Linked DNA regions of Homo sapiens: region 1 is linked to region 2. The links come from fine-mapping of genetic effects on gene expression. A gene starts in region 2. The other region holds a variant in brackets. All regions are shown on one strand. Distances are between the middles of the regions.

The links.
Region 1: its variant is fine-mapped to the expression of PELI1 in whole blood (INTERVAL, PIP above 0.99).

Annotation. Positions count from the first base shown.
Region 1 is chr2:64,272,639-64,275,552 of GRCh38, reverse strand. No RefSeq gene overlaps it. Among named protein-coding and RNA genes, the nearest start is that of MIR4433A, 67 kb to the left of the region's middle. RefSeq lists an enhancer at 2,817-2,914. The variant C/A (reference allele first, on the strand shown) is at 1,672.
Region 2 is chr2:64,142,629-64,145,542 of GRCh38, reverse strand. It overlaps PELI1 (pellino E3 ubiquitin protein ligase 1), which reads left to right and starts at 1,123. Exons shown (of 7, transcript NM_020651.4): 1 at 1,123-1,462. RefSeq lists silencers at 896-955, 1,046-1,235, 1,316-1,385, 1,526-1,595, 1,606-1,675.

The DNA.
Region 1 (2,914 bases), 130 kb before region 2:
ATAAGGAGATTGGTGCCCTTATAAGAAGAAGAAACCAGAGCCCTCTCTTGCTCTGCCAGGTGAGGACACAGTGAGAAGAAGGCCATCTGCAAGCAGGAATGGGTCCTCACTAGGAATCAAATCTGCTGGCACCTTGATCTTGAACTTCCCAGCTTCCAGAACTGTGAGAAATAAATGTCTGTTTTTAAGCTACCCAGTCTATGGTGTTTTATTATAGAACACCATAATTCTATAATAAATTATAGAATTTATTATAGAATTATAATTATTATAAATATTTAATTAATAAATATAAATTATTATTATAGAATAAATTCTACAATTTATTATAGAATTATAGAATTTGCCAACATGGCAAAACCCCATCTCTACTAAAACTACATAAAATTAGCCAGGCATGGTGTAGCCATGCACCTGCATGACTACAGAATTCTATAATTCTATGATAAAATATAGACTATGACTAAGACAGGAGCCTTGGTGGTCTGCCAAGAGAAAGGTGGTCATGGTTGGGGAGGGGACAGCAACACAGCAGTGAGGGTTTAAGATGAGAGAGAAACAGAACAGGAGGAAAGGATGCTGACCAGGGGCCTGTGAGGGGTCACTGTGCTAAGAACCCAGCCGAGGTCAGAGGCCCCAGGTTGTGTAGAACCCAAACCACAAGAGTGTGTATTCCTCTAGCCTCCTTCAGGAGTCCTTGAGTAGGAAGAAAGAGGGAAAATGATTCACAGAGAAAACTGATTCACAGAGAAAGGTTTGCAAGACTGACATAGCAAAAGGAAGGGGAAAGTGGGTTGAGGTTGCTGGCAAGAGTCACAGAAGACACACACATGTATACATATACATACATATATAATTATATAGAATTGTATGTGTATATATAATTACATATGTGTGTATATATATGCTAGAGAGAGAGAGAAGGATTGATCACAAATGTAGAACAGGTCTGAGTTGCTAAAGTGGAGTGGAGTTGAAATTTTTTTTGATAAGGCTCTTATCAAAGAATGCTTCTGGAAGATTAATCTTTTTTTCTGGAAGGAAATAGAGGTAAGTGCACCACTTAGCAGGCTGATGTAATGGTCCAGATCAGAATTAGTAAACACACAGAATGCAAGTTGCAGTGACCCACCTGTGCCTCTGGCAATCGTCACCAATGGACAACCACACTCTGCTGCTGAACTCAAAATCTTTCTCTACACAGTGCTCGGGCAGCCACTACCAATTAGTTGGAATTGGCCCAGGAGATGGAAACTGCTTTCAGTTCTGGTCTGGATGAAAGGTAATAAGCCTGGCCTAGGTTTTTAGCAGCAGGCATGAAGTGACTGCAATGTGGAGCCCACCACAGGGTAAGAGAAAGAACATCTCACAGCCAGCCAGCCTCTGATCACTGGGTTCCCAGAACCCTGAGAGAGCTGAGGGTGGTGCCAGAAACGATCTCTGGACTCAGAATTGCTCTGGGGCACACCCAGAAGGCCAGTTGCTACTGAAGCACCCGAGCTCACCTGGACAGTCTCTCAGAATCCCAGGTCGGTTAGCCTTGGCTGGCTTCGGGAAGTGGAGAATCAGACAAACCACAGATCTCATGACTCAGTGATCTTCCATAAGGGAGTAGATGAGTGTTTCTGGCACTGGCCTGGTAGGAGCTCGTGGGAGGATGCCAATAATTCC[C/A]TTTAGTTACTCTGGGTCATGGTGTCCTACTAGCTAGAGCCAGCCTGAGGCCACAAGGAAACAGAAGCAGCTTTGGGCCCATCTCTGAGAAATACCTTTCACTTTATCTAATTCCCTTTCTTTTGGGTGAGCAGCTTCAGCCAGCAGGAAGCTTCATTTCCTTCCTCTCTGCTGGAACTCCTTGGTTCTGGGCCTTTGTTTTTATCAGCCATTGCAAAACTGATCTCTGATTGCACAATATGGGCAATGACATGACAGTGACTGAGACTCATGAATCCCATTAAGCCCAGTGGTGTTAATAGATCAGATATTCATAAAGAGATAGCAGTATTAATCCCTGACTTGTCACCACAACTTCCTTCAGACTGTCATTAATATTAAAAAGAATAAGTCATCGATATGTCATGCTGGTCTGCAGTTGTTTGGGGCCTTTTGTTGTTACATAATGAATGGGTTCCATGTGAAGGCCTCCGGGAGTGGTTTTTGCTGTTTATCTCTTTGTTCATGTTTGTTTATTTGTTTCTCCTTAGGCACTTATCAGAAGAACCAAGAACTGAAGATACAGGAAAAAACTTCTGCAAGTTCAATGTCCAAAAGAGACTAGGATTTAATTGAAACATACAGATCTAGAAAATCAAAGTCTGATTAAAAGAGTTAACAAAAGAAAGCACAACACTAAGGGGTGTGTGTGTGTGAGAGAGAGAGAGAGAGAGAGAGAGAGACAGCAGGGCAGGAGAGAGGGTAAGAGAGCAAAACAGCTTTGCAGGGGCAGGTGATGGTGTGATTTGAAATGCCTATGAGATGCACATCTGGCAGGTCTGAAGCCTGCAAGTAACACATGGAGCAAGTTACCCATCACCCTGGCATTTCCTCAAGTCTAAGCTATATTAGCGTCCAGCCTCCCACACTTTTTTGTGCATCCTAACCTAATTAGTTAAAGATTACATTCTCCTGTGTGAGTGGCAGAGTCTCTTGGGTACAGTCTTTTGGGCTAGGACCCAATAGATAGCAGTGGCTGTGTCATTTTAGATAGCAGTGGGAATTTGGTAATTGATTTAAAAACAAGTCGGCCGGGCTCGGTGGCTCACGTCTGTAATCCTAGCACCTTGGGAGGCCGAGGTGGGCGGATTGCCTGAGCTCAGAAGTTTGAAACCAGCCTGGGCAACACAGTGAAACCCCGTCTCTACTAAAAATACAAAAACATTAGCCGGGCGTGGTGGCATGTGCCTGTAGTCCCAGCTAC
Region 2 (2,914 bases):
GTCTGTAGATATAAGGATTTCTGATCTTGAGACTCTCTGAAAGCCTTGCTCCAAAAGTGTGTCTGATTCCTAAGCATTAATCTTTTTCTTCCAGGGTGTGGGGTTCTAGGTAGGTGGAGAAGGAAAACAAAAGCGCTCAGGACGCGTTGCCTTTAGCTCTCCGGAGAGCCAGTAATGTGTCCTGCCTTTCTCCACCCTCCTCCCTACCACCTTTCCACACCTGGGTGCCCAAGATGGGTGTAGACTTAGCTGACCAGCCCAACAACATACTCATACCTTGGTTCAGACTTCTCTTATTACCAAACTAAAGTTGGCCAATACACATAAACAATTTTCAACTTGTCTTTTGAACGTATACTTTATGAAATTTGTATGTCTTAAAAATTGTAGGCCTTAAAATGAACGAACCCGGATTCTTTTATAGTAATCAAGTAAAATATAGGGGTCTTAATTCTGTACTTTGCCTTTGCTAATCTTAAAGTTAGATGTGACTAACTGAGCAAAGTAATTAATTACGGGACTTTGATAGTGGTGATATTCCTAAGTTTTATAACCTAATTGTTCAATTACTGGAAACAACTACATTTCGACAAGTCTTAGGTAAAGAAAATTGAATTTAGCCGGAGAAGATTCAATTGAGGGAAGTGAGGGACAGAGGTATTTGTGATTTAGGGTTTGTGGAAGATAAATTACGCAGCAGGGAAGACTGAAATATGGAGAGAAAGTCAGACCTCACTGGGTACTTATGACTGGTAAGGCTAGGAGTTGGAGGTGGAGAAAAGTAGGAAGGACCGTCTAAGGGTTGGATCCCCAACAACACCATAATACAAGACCGTCCTTGTTCAGCCAACAGCAGCACTGAACACGTTCGCTAAGTGTGTCGGTGACCATGGTAACGGTGGGAGGGGGCGGTCCAAACCTCGCCCTCGAGCATGCTCAGTGCAGAGCGAGCCTGGTAGGGTGCTGGACAACAATGAATCCCTTTTTTCTTCAACCGGAGAACTACAATTCCCAAGAGCCTTCTCGGTGCGGCGACACCGCCTTCCGCTGTGGCCCTGCCCGGTCCCCTCCCTCAGGCCCCGCCCCCCGGCTAGACCCCTCCCCTCCTTGCGAGTGTATGTCAGTGACCCAGAGGCGGTGTGAGGCGGAGGGACCGTCGGGGGGCGCCGCCGCCGCCTCCACTAGCAGCAGCGGCAGCAGCCCTAGTCCCGCGGTGCGGTCGAATTGGTCCCCAGCCCTCCGGGAGCGCACCACAAAGCAGCCCCAACGCCTCTCCCTGCGTCCGCGGCTCCTCAGCGCTCGGCTCCGTGGTCAACTTCCCCTCGCTGGGCTCGGCTGGCGGGCGCGGAGGGCAGCGGCGGAACGGCGGGCTGTCTGCTCGCGCTCCCCGCGCACAACACTTCACCCTCTCGCCTCGGGTCTCGGGGGCCGCTCTGGGATCCCGGCCACCAGCAATTGTCCGGTAAGTGTGACCGCGGGGCGCCGCGGGATGGATGGCGGCGGGGCCGCCGAGGGGCGCGGGGAGGGCGGGCGCGCAACTTCCTCGGCGGCTTCCCCGGCGGCCAGCAGCCGGCTCTCCCCGCCCGCCTGCGCGCCCCCGCTGCGGCGGGGAGCGGAGTTTGCGGCGCCTGCATCCCGCGCCCTGGCTCGAGGAAGCGCCTTTGTCAGGAACCGGCCCTACGCGGCCTCCCCCTCCGCCCGGGAGCGGGGCGCGCGGCGGCCAACTCCGAGCCCCGCGCCTGGCTGGCCGCGCGCTCCGGCTGCGAGAGGGGAGCTCTGCGGGTGGCGGGGAGGAGAGGGAAATGGGAGAAACAAAAGGGGCGGTGGGTTTCCCTTTTGTTTGTGCGGATCTGATAACTTCTTTTCCTCCCTTACATAACGCAGACTTCAAGTTAGTCATTCTTTTTATTGTTATGATTGTTGTCATCATCTCTGCGCGTCTTTCACATTTCCTTTCATCTTTGGATCTCAGAGCATTTTAAACACGCTAATTAATTTCACCCCCGGGTCCCCTAGGAAACAAGTTAATACGCCCGTTTCCCTAAGTGGGTAAACTGAGGTCGTGAAAAGCTCTCAAATTGATGGATACGCTTGATCTTCTACCGCGCCTCGTGTCTGAGTATATGAAAGCGTTTATGAGGAAGAACCCGTTCTCCAAAGCCCCGTGGAAAAGTTAAAGATGCTCATTTTACTTACAGGTTAACTGAAGTCCAAAAGATGTCTAGGTAATTGTTACGTAGTTCAAACCATAATTCTTCTTACATAGTGTTTGAATCTTAAAACCTCTAAAGACTTAGTGAAAAATGCTCCGAGTAGGGAAATTAATGTAAATCATAAACTCACGTCACCATCTACTTTTATTTTTGTACGTGCAGGTCTGTTAGAGGCAAGAGAGCAAGAAGGGGACAGAGGGCAGAGGTTTTTTAAAAATGTACATTTAACAGATTTTAATCACTACACACAAGGAAATGTGCCTTGGTTTTAACAGCACCAACAATATTCCTGTCGTTTAGTCATCAAACAGTATATCAACAAATGTTATTGAGAACTTTATTCATAAGGTGCTGGTTGTGCTAAAAACTGAAGCTTTATATATAAGAAAAGGTCATCTGTTTCGGTTCACAGGCTCTTTACTTTTTCTTACTCTGCAAAATGTTACTTTGTTTTCATTGCACATGATCTTTTGTTTCAGAAATGGCATTGTCCTTTACTGTGTCGAATATGTATTACTCTTACACTTAAGGATAAATGAATTTATTATTAAGTTTTCATAATAGGGTGAATTTAAAATATTTTAATTGTGGTAAAGGTTCACTTTATTCAGTTCTGTTTCAGTTTACGATGCGTTTTCTTTATAGCCAACAAAATATTTTCTGAGTGATAAGATTTACATGTCTCAAAACATTGTTCTTAG